2 separate regions of the Homo sapiens genome follow, and region 2 is linked to region 1. The links come from fine-mapping of genetic effects on gene expression. A gene starts in region 1. The other region holds a variant in brackets. All regions are shown on one strand. Distances are between the middles of the regions. Region 1 holds the start of SCML1 (Scm polycomb group protein like 1). Region 2 has its middle 38 kb from the start of SCML1.

Region 1 (8,340 bases):
TCATTATTAAAATCACCTGGTATACCTTTGCTACCAATAACACAGTAAAATCCAAACTCCTACCATGGCCTGCAAGGTCCTTCCATAATCAGGACCCCGCCCACTGCGCAGAGGTCACTTCTTACCACTTGCCCCTTTACTCTAAGCCAGGGGTCCCCAACCCCTGGGCAACCGCCTGGTACTGGTCCTTGGCCTGTTAGGAGCACAGCAGGAGCTAGCAAGGATTATCGCCTGAGCTCCGCCTCCTGTCAGATGAGCTGCAGTATTAGATTCGCACAGGAGCACAAACCCTATTGTGAACTGCACATGCGAGGGATCTAGGTTGCACTCTCCTTATGAAACAGTTTCATTAGGAAACTATACCCCGCTAGCACTCCCCCGTCCCTGCATCTGTGGAAAAATTGTCTTCCACAAAACCAAAACCGGTTCCTGGTGCCAAAAAGACTGGGGACAGCAGTTCTAAGCCTAAAATATTTACTGTGTAGCCTGTTTCAGGCAAGTTTGCAGACAATGGTTACAAGCTCTTACATCCAGAGAACAGAGAACTCCCTATTTGGATTAATAACAATGTTGTCAAAATTTGGCTGTAGTTAGACACAGGAGCACTGTGCAGTGAGTCCACCACTGGACTCCCAACATGTTTACATCTCTGGTACATATACAAATCAACACCAATCTTTCACTCTTTGAGCTTCTCGCTCCTGTTATGCCCTCCGTCCATAATACCCTGTTGTGTCTCCGCCTAGGAGAATCTATTCAACTTCAAGGCTTACTTCAAGTTTCACCTCCAAAAAGCAAGGGCACCATGCCAATGATCATCCCATGTGGATGTGACACGGCTTTCCCTGAACTACAATAACACTCACACTTTAATACTTCTACGGCAACTGTCACACATATCTGGTTACATGAGAGGCAGCATCAAACAGCATTAAGACCTTAGGCTTGTGGTCAGAATACCTGGGTTTGGGTCCCACCTCCCCCACATACTAGCTGTGTAAGTAAGTTGAACAACTTACTTAAATCCTTTTTTTTTTTTGTCTGTAAAATGGGAATGATAATAGCACATACCTCACGGAATCGTGAGGATTAAATTAATACATGTCAAGTGCTTAGAGTAATGCATGGCAAAGATAGCAAGGGCTTTTGAGTATTGACCGCATCTATCCAACAGAACTATTTCTCAAGGAGCACATAGACAACAAGCCTGGGTCATAACGTCATTTTCATTCACATTGCACCTGAAGTGAGTTTTTATGTCTTTTAGGTACCAGGGTATGATGCAAGGAGCTGGGCTTTAGTTATAAACACTTGAATCCAAGTCCAAATTGCCAAATTTGCCGTTTCACTTTAGGCAAATATTTCACCTCTCTGTGCCTCAAATTTTCTAACCTGTAAAGTTGGAATAATATCTACTTCACAGGGCTATTTAGGCCAAAAATTACACAGTTAAACTCTCAGCATCATGCCTGGTTCATAGTAGACACACCATAAATTTTAATTCCTTTTCACTTCTTCCCATAAGGCAAACAATTACAGCTTTACAACATTGCCTTAGAGCCCAACCATGACTAGAATGTGCAAAATTAATTTCATTTTTAAATCTCAAATCCCACAAAATGAGTTTACTTAAAATGAAACTCATTTATATTTACCACAGAAATCTAAATTTCTTTTTTTTTTTTTTTTTTTTTTGAGACAGAGTCTTACTCTGTCACCCAGGCTGGAGTGCAGTGGCATGATCTCGGCTTACTGCAACCTCTGCCTCCCGGGTTAAAGCAATTCTCCTCCCTCAGCCTCCCGAGTAGTTAGCGTAACAGGCTTGCACCACCATGCCCAGTTAATTTTTGTACTTTTAGTAAAGACTGGGTTTCACCATGTTGGCCAGGCTGGTCCCGAACTTCTGACCTCAAGTGATCTGCCCACCTCGGCCTCCCAAAGTGCTGGGATTACAGGTGTGAGCCACCGCGCCTGGCCAATTCTTGATAACACCATAAATTTAAGTTCCTTTTCACTTTTTCCCACAAGATAAATTACAGCTTTACAACATTTTCTCAGAGCCCAACCATGACTAGATTCTACAAAATTAATTTCACTTTTAAACCTCAAATTCCACAAAAATGAGTTTAAAGGAAACTCATTTATATTTACCCCGGAAATCTAAACTCTTGATAATACCACACATTTTAGTTTCTTCTCACTTCTTCCCACAAGATAAATAATTTCAGCTTTACAACATTTTCTCAGAGCCCAACCATGACTACACTGTGCAAAATGAATTAATTTCACTTTTAAATCTCAAATCCCGTAAAAATGAGTTTACTTAAAATGAAACTCACTTGCATTTACCACAGAAATTTAAACTCTTAATTACACCATATACCTTAATTCCTTTTCACTTCTTTCCATAAGATAAATCACAACTTTACAACATTTTCTGAGCCCAACCATGACTAGATTGTGCGAAATTAATTAATTTCACTTTTAAATCTCAAATCCCATAAAAATGAGTTTACTTAAAATGAAACTCACTTGTATTTACCACAGAAATTTAAACTATTCATTACACCATACACTTTAGTTCCTTTTCACTTCGTCCCACAAGATTAATTACAGCTTTACAACATTTTCTCAGAGCCCAAGGCTAGATTGTGCAAAATTAATTAATTTCACTTTCAAATCTCAAATCTCGTAAAATGAGTTTACTTAAAATGAAACTCACTTATATTTACCACAGAAATCTAAACTCTTGATAACATAAGAACAAGAGGCCGTCTGATTTTCTAAAAGACTTTTTTTAGACATTAAAGACATTTTCAAAAGTCGTAAATATTCGCTCCGGAGGCGCAAGGCTTTCACCTGCCATTAATTCATCAGATAAGGCACAGCTCACAATGAGGCGCCACTCCCACCGGGACCACTTTGAGGAACACACAGCAAAACGCTCTGTTTGTTTTAAGAACAATCACTTTCTAAACCTTCCTGCGGGACTCTCAAAGGCAGCCCTTCCTTTGCCGCCAGAACCGCATCCCATCGCCCAGCACTTGCCGCAGGCCGGACAAGTGAGGCCCAAAAGGGCACCCAGCCCACGCCCCGCTTTAGAAAACACCGCGCGGCAAAGCTGCTTGGAAAATCGCTATCTTTTAGTCAACCTGAAGCCAGTTTGCCGCACTCGGGGAGAGCCGGGGAGAGGAGGGAGGGACGCGATCCGCCACCAACCAAATCAGGGCCTTTCCTGTTAACGACCACGCGGCAAGGGGGCCGGGCCCTCGCACGCCTCGACGGCCTCCCCCACTCCAAAGGGACTCCGATTTCGCAGGATCTCCCGCCTCCCGCCTCTGCTCCCAACACCCTACGTTTTTCTCTTCCTCCTCATTTACGTATTTACAATAAAACAGCGAAGCTGCACAGTCTGTCTCTAAATCAAACGCGGTTACCATCAAAGCCTCAGACTCTATGTCTCAACCGCAAAAGGTCTGACAGGAAATCAACTCGGGAGTTTGTCAATTCTTTAAACTCAAAGCTCTGTTAACGAAATCTGGATCCTTCCTCGCTCCCCACCTGCCTCCCCTGACAGGAGAATGACTGTAAAAGGATCCTGTCGTCCCCGAAAGTCAGCACCAAGCACTTCACAAATTGTCAAATCTCAAAAGCTTACACGCGCGGGCACTCCGGAAAGGCTGTGGGGACCACCCAAAGCACCCCCCTCCACACCGCGGCTGAAATTGGAGGCTGCGAAGTCAAGACTCGCTCTTCCCCGCAAAGCAAACCCTCTCTCCTCAGGAGAGCCCCGGCCCCTAAGCCAAATCGTGTATTCCCGTGACGGAAAGTTCAAGGTGAGGAAAAAGTACGACTGGACAGACCTATTTTAGTGACAGAGCCTGTCACGCCGGCCTCCGGAGGTCGCGGTAAAACTGCTCGCAGTAGTCCTGCCTCTCCGATGGGCGACAGCTGTGACCGTTAGGCCACTCGACGCTTCGGAAAGGTCCTGGCACCGGAAACCGGGCCTGGTCACGCGCACGCGAGACCAGTGATGCCCTGACCCCTGAGTGGATCAGAGAGCTCCCGCGACGCCGAATTCCCACACTCGCGGTTGGGGGGGGGGGGGGGGGGGGGGGGGGCGGGACTACCCGCTGACCAATCGGAGTCTGGCCACTGACAGGCGTCACCGTTGATCGGCCAATCCGCGGGTGCTCTCCCAGTCCTTGGGTGAGGGCGGGAATTTGCTAAGGAGATGGCTGTGGGGCGGGGCCGAGGGCGGGAATTTGCTGAGGAGATAGCTGTGGGGCGGGGCCGAGGGCGGGAATTTGCTGAGGAGATGGCTGTGGGGCGGGGCCTCTTACCTCAGGTTTTCCTTCGCAAGACCCGCAGGATTGAAAATGGACGTTAGGCCTTTCAGAGACTCGCGCGCTGAGTGGTTTCTGCGGCTGCGCAGGAGGCTGGCGCGCATGCGCAACCCTTCTAGTGGCGTTGTAGTTAGGGACGTGGTGTCCCCCCTTCGTTGTTGGGGTGTCCGAAGCTTTTTTTTTTTTTTAATGTGATCCCGCCCCTCCCCCGCGCTCTGTGACGCACCAGAGACGTCGTCGTAAACTGGGTTTCCTGGACGCACGCCAGTGATTGACTTGGAATGAGGAGAGGGGCGGGGCCTTAGCAGTTGCCCTGAGCCAGGTCTGGTAGGAAGGGCGAGGGGGGCCAGGGTGGGGGGCGGGCAAGATATTTCCAGTCTCCAGCACCCACAAGTTGGACTGGGGAACTAACGCAGACCTTGAAGGCAGATTTACTGGATTGGACCCCCAGCTCCAACACAGTCCTCCTATGGCCTTAGGCAAGCCAAGTAACCGCTTTGTGCTTCGGTTTCCCCATCTGTAAAATGGGTATAATATGGGGACTACATGAGTTAATGTATGCAAAGCACTTAGAACAGTACCTGGCATAGAATTTTGCTATTGTAATAAAGGCTATGTGACATCATCTAGTGGCATATAGTCTTACATACTTATATCGAGGCTGCTCATCTTGGGAAGGAGACACAGTCTGAGTAATTATCAGAAGCAAAGCAGGCAGATATTTCAAAGTAAAGCTATACATCTTTTCTTGGCCCAGAGAGGAGCTACAAAGAAAGTATACTGGACGTTGGAAATGTATCATTTTTCCTCTCAAATACGAAGCTAGATTAAAGCCCATTATAGATATAGTATATGTTTTTTTTTTGTTTTTGTTTTTGTTTGAGACGGAGTTTTGCTCTTGTTGCCCAGGCTGGAGTGTAGCGGTGTGATCTCGGCTCACTGCAACCTCTGCCTCCTGGGTTCAAGCGATTCTCCTGCCTCAGCCTCCAGAGTAGCTGGGATTACAGGCGTCTGCCACCATGCCCAGCTAATTTTTGTATTTTTAGTAGAGACGGGTTTCACCATGTTGGACAGGCTGGTCTATGTTCTTTTTGCTCCTACTTTTGCCATAACAGACCCTGCCCTTATGTCCTGTTGCCTGTAAAACACTGTTGCGAAGCCCCAAGAAATCAATTACGTAACAGTGAAGAGAGAAACCGGTTGTTTAATTGCAGTCACGTTTATTTGCAGTTTCTATACACACTTTCTAGGTAATCAAACTTTTCTGATACATTTTTTTTGAGAGGGGTTCACAATGAAACTGTCACCATTTTTACTAAAAATAAATACAAGACTTAAAGTGTTGCACAGCTCTAAAATATACAAAGGCTTGGATTGAATGTAAACGTTGAAAACATCTTACAAAAGAAACCATCTTTGCAGCAATTTAAAAAGTTCATATTTACAAATATTACAAAAATACAAAATGGATGCAAGTCCATAAACCATTGTCGTTTCGGCCAGCATGAACTGGTTCTAGTACCAAAATAGTTACACTGTAACCTTCTTCATAGTTTTAAATCTTTATTACCATCTAGTTCTCTACGTGCCACCACTGCAGCAAATGCACTCACTCACTGACCTTTGGCAAGAGCAAACAGCATGTTCTGTTTGCTACAACTAGTCCATGTCCTCTACTTAGCCAAAAACAAATCAAAACAACAACAAAACCAAAGTAGAATTTTTAAAAAATGAAAAAATTTCCCCTACACAACATAGATACGTTGTATAAACATAAAAGAACAAAAAATCGCATCAGTGCAAACAACAGAAGAAAAGTTCGGATTGATGTTCTTCACAATACCTAACGTGTGTACCCTGCTTCAAGACGGCAGTGATGTTAAAGACAGCCCTAAATCTTGGTCTTGTTTGCTATGTAATCAAGCCATGTAGAATATTCCAGATTATTAGGGAACTTCCTGCTTTTTCTTCTCAGTTTGTAACTCAATACTCTTTTCCACAGTGAATTTTAAATCCATCTTTATTTGGGTTTTTTAAATCTATGAAATATAAAATAGAGAAACTCTGCTATAGATTTTTAGAGTAAACAAAATAAGTAAAACTATATTATAAGGGTTAGTTCTGTGATCATTACATATAGAAGGTATCTTATTGCCTCACAATTCAAGTCAATATGTATTTTAAAAAATATATGGTACCATTACTTAATGTCAATAATAAAAAGGTGACATTTTTATTAAAGCCAATTCATGTGTTTTCTATTCAAGATTTAGAATCACTTTTAAAGCCCACATACCTTTCTTCACACTTAAAAAACCCCTAACTACACAAAAGCCATACTGCAAACGAACTGCTTTTATGAAATTACGAAAGATCGCCTACTGTGACTGGAAATGACGGTTTCTTATCGCATTTGCCTAAAAACTTTATTTTTAAAACTTTGCAAGGTGTACTTTTCAAATCATGAGACAGATTTATTCATGTTCCCATGTGGTGTCAAACCATGCTGGTTTTCTTAATTAATGGGTTCCAATGAGAAATGGTGGTCCATTTTATTCAAACCCCAAAATATTTTTCTTTTAAGAAAAAGTGTGACATTTTGTAAATGTTCAAACCCTTTACCAGGTAGCTTATCTATCCCCAGTGTGTGTGCGTACACACACACTCACACTCACACACACCCATACACACTCTCTCTGACTCTCCCTCCTCTTATACCCCTCCACCCCCAGCACCCATTTTACATACAAGGATGACAAGAAATTTAGTAACACAGTTTGGTAGTGAAAACAAATAGTAGAAGAAGCCAGACATTTTTTTTCTTTCCAAACAAACAAAACAACAGCAATCAGATTATCTATTCTTAATCTGTAGCAGTTTAGAAATCATTTCTATTGAAAGACAGTATCTTCTTAGACCAGGCTTCCTCCTTCATTTTGCATGAATTAATCCAAAATGCAAACCCTCTTCCACACCTCCTACTTTCCCAACTACCACTTGCATAAGCTTAAAGCCAGCAGCTTGTCAATTTCTTGGTAACATTGGTATGTTCTATCACTCTAATCACATTCTAGTCTTTTATAAGTCAGATCCCTTCTTAATTCTCTCTCTGTTCTACCTCTCCCATTCAAAACCTATTCTAAGTACATAGCTGCTTATATTTCTGACATAAGATTCCAAACATTAGTATAAGTTCATGTTAAAATCAGAGGTGTAAAAACCATTTGCAGATTTTAACGTGTAACTACATTTTTTTTTCAGTTTTAAGACAAGAAAATTCAAGTAATTTCAAGTAATTCAGCTTGTTTCCCTGCCTTTATTTTATCAGAGCACATGCCCTGACATTTCCTCTCCCACCCTCCACCCTCCCCTTTTGCCATCAAGCAGACACTATAGTAAAACCAGACAAAAACTCAGTTGTATGTAGTATTGTGAACCAGAGCTGTTCCCCATTCCCAGTTTAACAATGAGTATAAATAATGCATATACACATACCTATTTTCCAACTACATTGTTCACAGTGTCATTTCTGTTAATTTTTAGGTAGCATGAATCTCATCAGCACAGAGAGAAAGCTTCACTGAAAACTCATTACAGGTACTTACTGATTAATCAATAGCTCTGTGGCATGCTTAGGTTTTATTTTTGTTAGTTTAAGAACCTGGAGCTAATTTCTAAACTGTTTAAGGAGTTTAATGATTACAGTCATTAGTTATGACCGTTTATGTCCCCAGTAGCCTAATATAAAACATAACCTAAAATTAACTACTATTTTCCCTACTCATTCTCTTTAAAGCAATCCATTGAAAAAATTAAAATCTAAAGGACACTGTCAAATGCTGTTGTTCAGGGCTTTGTGTTGAGAATGATGACTTCTCTCACTGATTAAAAAAAAAATCAAAAGCATGCTTTTCATTCTGTCCAAATTACCACACAACAAATCACAGCCATGGGTTGCTATTAGTTTGTTTGGTGCTGCAATTTGTCATAAAAA
Region 2 (8,340 bases), 38 kb before region 1:
CAGGAATAAGATGTACACTCATGTATAGAGAAAGTAAACAGCAAAAACCAATTTTTTAAGAACAAAAGGGGGGAAAAGAAATAAATCTAAATATCCATAACTGCCCCCTAAAGCATATTCAGCAACTCCTTATTCTTCCTTGGAATTGACCTCATTCAGTCACACACAAACACCAAAAGACAAGTGAAAACAAGACCCAGGCACTCCACAACAGAGAAGATCTAAAAATAACTACCAGAGCAGGTTGCGCATATCAAACGTTTCACACACCAAGAAGGAACTTTGCATATTTTCACTTTGAGGAAAGTGTATTCACTCCTTCAAAATCTCACTGGGACTTTCTGCAAAGATTTCCAGAGTTCAGATTTAACAGATTAGGACTTTAATCAAAAACCAGCCATCAAGAATTTCCTGTGCACTTATAAGCAACAGACAGCTTTCCATCAGATTCTATGGTTATTACCAGTGGAGAGAGGAAATCAAAGGGAGGACAACTTGGCAGTGAGATTTGGGGAAAAGAGATTAGTAATCCAACACATTTTTTGTCTTTAGAAACAAGGCAGGAGGCCAGGTGTAGTGGCTCTTTCCCGTAATCCCAGCACTTTGGGAGGCCAAGGCAGGAGGGTCACTTGAGCCTAAGAGTTCAAGACCAGCCTGGGGAACCCAGGCTAGACCCTATCTCTACAAAAAGTACAAAAATTAGCCAGGCATGGTGGCACACACTTGTAGTCTCAGCAACTTGGGAGGCTGAGGGGGGAGGATCACCTGAGCCCAGGGAGGAGGAGGCTGCAGTGAGCTGTGATCGTGCCACTGCAGATCACATTTCTGACCAGTCATTTCTTGTGTACCTGCACTTTTTCTAACGGAAGCATTGCTATTGATTTCACAAGCAGCCAGGCTCACTTATGAAATATGTTGAGACATAAATTAATAAAAGAAGATGCAACATTAAAAAACAGTAATCATCACTCAATAAATACTTCTCAATGATGACACCCATGTGGTACTACAGCCTGTGTGACAGAGCAAAACCCTGAAAAAAAAAAGACAGAAAAAGCAGGAAGTCATTGTTTTAGTTATGTATTGCTGCAGAACAACATTGATTATCTCCCAGTTTCTATGGGTCAGGAGCCCAACCCCAACTTAGACAGGTGGTTCTGGCTCAGGATCTCTCCTGAGGTATCAGTCAAGCTGGTTGAGATCTCATCTGAAAGTTCAGTGGGTGATGGGGTAGGAATCCACTTCCAAGCTCACCTGCAAAGTTGCAGGCCAACCTTGGACCTTGCATGTGCAACTCTTGGGATGCCACATGACATGGCAGCTGACTTCCTCTAGAGCAAGCTATTTGAAAAAATGTCTAAGACAGAGCCCATAGCATTTAAAATCTAATTGCAGAATTGACATCTCATCACGTCTGTCCTTAAGGGGATTCAGTAAGTCCAAGTTACACTGAATGGGAGAGGATTGCACAAGGGTACAGAAACCAGGGAGCAGGGATCATTGGAGGTATCTTTAGTATACAAGAGAAAAGAGCTGCTTTATCTATTTCAAATGGTTTTGAGGTGAGAGGAAGGTCTGTGTTCAGAAAATCGAAACAGTATAAAGATAAGTTGGCTGGCACAAAGTGTGTGGGTCAGAATAAGTAGGAAATGAGTTTAGCCAGGTAGGAAAGAGTCATATTAGAGATCTGAGGGACACTATTATGATTATGTATTCAGGTTACATAAAAGTTATTTTAGATTCATGGCGCATAACAACCTGGAGAAGATAGCCATTATTGACCCTAAATGTGGGTAGCTAATGTCTGTAAAATGATGCAGCAAGAGATGAAGACAAAAGGGATGGACAGAATCAGCTGTGTTTTGGAGAAGGAGGCAACAGAATCTGATGACTGACTCTATGTGTGAGTGTGTGTGTGTGTATGAGAGAGAGAGAGAGAAAGAGCGAGAGAGAGATTAGACACCTACTTTCCAAGGGGGCTGCAATAAATATCATCCCTCTTTTCTTTGCCCCCCAGGTCCTAAAAAGTTGAGAAATAAAAGAGTAAAGATGGAGGCTAAAATATCATCTTTCTCCCACTAGAGGATGCAGTTGAACATGAGAGTGCAAGAGGTCTGCAAGAGGATTCCGGTATTAGCCAGGCTCACCCACCCAGAAACCCCAGAAGCAGAAGATGGACCTGGACAGATTATTGCCTAATCTACTGTTCCCAAATTTACTGATCAGAAAAAAATCCCATCCATTTCCCCAGGAATGGAGTGAGCAAAATGGAGAAAGAGTCCAATAATTCAGCTGTTTTCACAGTCAGTAAAAAGTGATACTCTAACCCAGGACACTATGTGAACATAGTCCATACCAATGTATGAGATCCTCCCAGCCTCACTTTATAGATAGAGAAACAGACACCCAGAACCCATAGCTAGTGACTCCAACACCCAAGCTCAAAAGAATTTGAAGAAGGAATTGAAAGTCTTCCTTAATAGTAAGGCTTCCTGGGGCTGCAGTTTCACTGCGTGTGGTGGGGTGAGCTGTGGCCAGGCTGTAGAAAAGGAAGCAGTGGGGCCTGGGTGTGGGAAAGGCAAGAAGGCAAGCAGGGACAGGGTGGGCACCCTTTGGGACAAGATGCTTTCCCATCTTGATCTCTCTGAACTGTCACAACCCTTGGGGGAGGGGTGATCCTCGTTGGACCAAGCAGAAAACAGACTCGGATTGCCTGAGCCCTGTGACAAAGCCACACAGGCAGAGGTGGTAGAGGAGGGGGGCCCAGCCCTGAGTGCTTTGGGCAGGTCTTTCCCTCTCCAACCCTTTTCCGAAAGGCTCTGAGGCTCTTGGACAGAGGAGGGTCCCCGAAAGGAGAGGCATGGAAAGCGCCATGGAGGGGCCTCCGTGGACAGGGCCAAGCCAGCGGGAGCCAGTCCTGAGAACAGGCGGCGCCCATGGGCCCTCCGCAGGCCCCCAGCAGGAACTGGTAGACCGTCTGCGTGCACTGGAATTTCTGACTTGGTGTGGGTTTGGTGACCCGCGCACGTGTTGGTACGGGAGTCTGTGTGTTGCCTTCACCCAAGGGGCACCCTGTCCTGGACTCCCGCCTCCCTGGCTTCCAGTGCTGGGCCTCTGCTCTCTGTGGCCCCCTGACCCTGGCACCCCCCGTGGACAGCTTGAGAAGCCTCTGCACCTCCCCTCCAGGCTCCACGACTCCTCCCCCTGCAAAATGACGCCAACTGCTGTTGGACCCCGGCCCCGTGGCCCAAGGGCTATCTCTGATGGTCTCCATTTTCACTGCCCTCTCCAGCCCCGCCGCTGCACCAGGAGATCAAGCTCCCCAGCCCTCTCACTGAGCCCCCGGCCATCACCCGCGAATCCCACCTGAGCAGTCCTCCTGCCTCTCAACCTGCCTCGGGGCACGGTGTCCTCTAAACA[A/C]CCCCCTTCCAACCTGAGCTCTTCGCGCCTCTCTTACGTGTAGACAGCGGCTCCTGGTGCCTGAAGCCAAGCCCTGTCTACAGGCCAGGAGCCCCAGCTCCCACCCCCGATGGCAACACGACAGCAGGACCAGCCCACCACGAAGGACAGCCAAGCCCCTGGCCCGAGGCTTGCCTCACACGCTTGCGGCCGCATGTTTTCTTCTCCAGCCACTCAAATTCTCACGTTTCTTTTCCTCCCTGAACCCACCCCCCAGTCCCTCCTTCCACCACCTTCCGCCTCGTGGGTCCTGCAAGCGCAGTTAGCCACAGCCGACCACCGGCTTTCTGCAGTCCAAATCCACTGGCTCCTCCCAGCTTTCCTCTGCCTTGGGGTCCCGTGAATTTCAGCGTGCATGGCCACTCCTGCTGAGCTGTGTCTTGACTCCTAGAATTCACTTCTTCATTGAACACATCCTCACTGAGCACCTCCAGGGCGCCATGCACAATCGTGAGGCGGGGACAGAGAGAGGCGGGGACAGAGCGGGCAGCCGCACACACCAGGCAGCCGCACACACCAGGCCTTGACCTTGACCTTCTGGTCAGCAAGGGGAGGGAAAACAGAAATGAACAAAATTCTTTCCGAAGGCGTGTGAAAGGGGATGACAAGGAAGGGAGGACGTGCCAAGAAGGACAGTCACAGAAGACTTCTCTGAGAGGCCACATTGGAACTGAGACATGAATTGTTCAAAGAGGAAGAAGCCCCAACACCTGGGAACAGAGAAACCCAGGAAGAGCCACTGCAAGGCGAGGCCTGAATTCAGGAGGAAGCTGGACATGCGGAAGCCTTGGAGAAATGGCCAGGGCAGCTTCACAAGAGTGGCCGAGAGGAGAAGGATGGGTCGAATATTCAGTAAGGGTCAGAATCAAGTAAGACAACGAGAGAAGGGAAGGAAACACATCACGGGTAGATATGGACCCTACTAAAACAGAAAGACACGGACAGGAGCAGAAGAGGTGTGAGGATGGAGCACAGAAAGACAGAAGAGAAGGGGGGTGGGGGGGCAGATCCTGTGTGAGTACCAATGAAAGGAAGACAGGAAGAGATGGTCAGAGCCACATCATGTGTGGGTACGAATGTCAGAAAGACAGTAAGACATGGGCAGAGGCAGATCATGTGTGGGTATGAATGTCAGGAAGACAATAGGATTGGAAGAAGCAAATCATGTGTGGGTATGAAGGTCAGGAAGACAGTAAGAGATAGGCAGAAACAGATTATGTGTGGTATGAATGTCAGGAAGACAGTAAGAGATGGACAGTAAAAATATGTGTGGGTAGGAATTTCAGGAAGACAGTAAGACATGGACAGACAAAGATCATGTGTGGGCATAAATGTTAGGAACACAGTAAGAGATGAGGAGATGGAGATCATATGTGAGTATGAATGTCAGGAAGACAGAAAGAGATGGGAAGAGGCAGATCAAGTGAGTATGAATGTCAGGTGGGCAGTAAGAGATGGGAGAAGGCAGCTCATGTGTGGGTATGAATGTCAAGAATACAGTAAGAAATGGACAGAGTCAAAACATGTCTGGCTATGAATGTCAGGAAGTCAGTAAGAGATGAACTGAGGCAGATCATGTGTGGGTATGAATGTCAGGCAGACAGCAAAGAATGAACAGAGGGATATCATGTATAAGGATGAATGTCAGGAAGACAGTAAAAGATGGGTAAAGGCAAATCATCTGCGGGGATATATGTCAAGAAGACAGGAAGAGATGGGCAGAGGATGATCATGTGTAAGTATGAATGGCAGGAAGACAGCAAAAGATGGATAGAGGCACACCATGTGTGCATATGAATGTCAAGAAGACAGTATAAGATGGACAGATGCAGATCATGTGTGAGCATGAATATCAGGAAGGCAGTAAGAGCAGAACAGCCTCAAAGCATGTGTTGCTATGAATGTCAGAAAAGCAGTAATAGATGTGTAGAGGCAGAGCATGTGTGGGGATGCATGTAAGGAAGGCAGTAATAGGTGGGCAGAGCAGATAATGTGTTGTTATGAGTATCAGGAAGAGAGTAAGATATGGACAGATGCAGATTACGGGTGGGTATGAAGGAAAATAAGACAGTAAGTGAAGGGCAGGGGCAGACGTGTGTGCGTGAATGTCAGAAAGACAGTAAGCGATGGGAAGAGCAGATCATATGTGAGTATATATGTCAAGAAGACAGTAAGAAATGGGTGGAGGCAGATCATGTGTGGTATGCAAGTCAGGAAGCAGTAAGCGATGGGTAGAGGCAGATCATGTGTGGTATCAATGTGAGAAAGGAAGTGATGGGCAGAGCAGATCATATGTGAGTATATATGTCAGGAAGACAGTAAGAGATGGGTAGAGGCAGATCATGTGTGATATCAATGTCAGGAAGACAGGAAGAGATGGGTAGAGCAGATCATGTGTGGGTATGAATGTCAAAAATATGGTAATAGATGGGCAGAGACAGATCATGCATGGGTATGAATGTCAGGAAGACTGTAAGAGATGGGCAGAGGCAGATCGTGTGTGGTGTCAATGTTAGGAAGGAAGGAAGTGGTGGGCAGAGAAGATCATATGTGAGTATATGTGTCAGGAAGACAGTAAGAGACCGGTAAATGCAGATTATGTGTGGTCTGAATGTCACAAAGACAGTAAGAGATGGGCAGTGGCATATCACGTGTGGTCTGAATGTCATGAAAATAGAGATGGGCAGAGACAGATCACGTGTGGGTATGAATGACACAAAAACAGTAAGAGATGGCCAGAGACAGATCATGTGTGGGTATGAATGTCAGGAAGAAAGTAAGAGATAGAGGCAGATAATGTGTGGTATCAATGACAGGAAGACAGGAAGAGATGGGCACAGCAGATCATGCGTGGGTATGAGTGTCAGAAAGATGGTAATAAATGGACAGAGACAGATCATGCGTAGTTATGAATGTCAGGAAGACAGTAAAGAATTTGCAAAGGCAGGTCATGTATATTTATGAATGTCAGAAAGACCATAAGAGCTGGGCAGAAGCAGATTATGTGTGTGTATGAGTGTCAGGAGGACAGCAAGGGATGGCAAGATACAGGTCATGTGTGGTATGAATGTCAGAAAACCAGAGAGAGATAGGCAGAGGCAGATCATGTGTGGTATGGATGTCAGGAAGACAGGAAGAGATGGGCAAAACATCATGTGGGCATATGAATGTCAGAAAGAAGGTAAGAGATGGGCAGAGGCACATCCTGTGTGAATATGAATGTCAGGAAGACAATAAGACATGGGCAGAGGCAGATCATGTGTGGTATGAAAGTCAGAAAGAGACTAAGAGATGGGCAGAGCAGATCGTGTGTGTGTATGAATGTAAAAAAAGACAGGAAGAGATGGGCAGGGGCATGTCATGTGTAGCATGAATGTCAGAAAGAAAGTAAGACACCGCCACAGGCAGACCATGTGTGATATGAATTTCAGGAAGACAGTAAGCGATGGGCAGGGGCAGATCTTGTGTGGTTATGAATGTCAGGAAGACAATAAAACATGGGCAGAGGCAGATCGTGTGTGAGTATTAGTGTCAAAAAGACAGTGACAGATGGGTACAGGCAGATCATGTGTGGCATGAGTGTCAGGAAGACAGTAAGAAATGGGCAGAGGCAGATCATGTGTGGGTATGAAAGTCGGGAAGACAATAAGAGGTGGGCACAGGAAGATCATGTGTGGTATGAATGTCAGGAAGACAGGAAGCGATGGGCAGAGCAGATAATGAGTGGGTATGAATCTCAGGAAAACAGTAAGACATGGAGAGTGGCAAATCATCTTTGGATGTGAATGTCAGGAAGACAGTAAGGCATGGACAGAGACAGATCATGTGTGAGTATGAGTCTCACAAAACCGGTTAGAGATGGGCAGAGGCAGGTCATGTGTGGTATGAATGTCAGGATGACAGTAACAGATGGGCAGAGGCAGATCAATGTGGTATCAATGTCAGGGAGCAAGTAAGTGGTGGGTAGAGCAGATCATGTGTGGTTATGAATGTCAATTATGCAGAAAGGCATTGGCAGAGGTAGATCATGTGTTGGTGTGAATGTCAAAAAGACAGTAAGATATGGGCAGAGGCAGATCAGGTGTGGTATGAATGTCAGGACGACAGTAAAAGATAAGCCTAGCACGTCACGTGTGGTGTGAATGTCAGGAAGATAGTAAGAAGTGGAGAGGCAGATCACCTTTGGTATGAAGGTCAGGATGACAGTAAGAGTAGGACAAGACATATCATGTGTGGCTGTGAATGTCAGGAAAACAGAGATGGGCAGAGGCGGGTCACATGTAGGAATGAATATCAGAAGGGCAGTAAGAGATGGGTAGAGGCAGATAATGTGTGGCTATGAACGTCAGGACAGTAAGAGATAAGCAGACGTAGATCAGGTGTAGATGGGCAGAGGCAGATAATGTGTGGCTATGAACATCAGGACAGTAAGAGATAAGCAGAGGTAGATCAGGTGTGGCAAGAGCCTCAGGAAGACAGTAAAAGATATGCCTGGCACATTATGTGTGATATGAATGATAACAGTAAAAGATGAGCAGAGGCAGATAAAGTGTGAGTATGAATGTCAGGAAGACAGAGATGGTCAGAGGCAGATAATGTGTATTATGAATGTCAGGAAGACATAAGAGATGGGCAAAGGCAGATCACGTGTGAGTATGAAAGAAACAAACAAGAATGGAATGGGCATAGCCCCTTCTTGTGTAGGTAGGAATCTTAGGAAGACAGTAGGAAATCAGCAGTGCCAGGCAATAAGTGGGTGTGCGTTTCAGGAAGACAGAATTTGTAGCGAAGAACCAGATCTTTTGTGGGAATGGGTCACAGGAAGACAAAGTGAAGACAAGTGAAAAATCGTATCAGAGAATGGAACAGAGAAAGTATGAA

The links.
Region 2: its variant is fine-mapped to the expression of SCML1 in whole blood (TOPMed, PIP above 0.99).

The regions. Positions count from the first base shown.
Region 1 is chrX:17,733,204-17,741,543 of GRCh38, reverse strand. SCML1 (Scm polycomb group protein like 1) reads right to left here and starts at 4,051. Exons shown (of 8, transcript NM_001037540.3): 1 at 3,864-4,051. NHS (NHS actin remodeling regulator) reads right to left here. Exons shown (of 9, transcript NM_001291867.2): 9 at 5,550-8,340.
Region 2 is chrX:17,771,077-17,779,416 of GRCh38, reverse strand. No RefSeq gene overlaps it. Among named protein-coding and RNA genes, the nearest start is that of SCML1, 38 kb to the right of the region's middle. The variant A/C (reference allele first, on the strand shown) is at 3,421.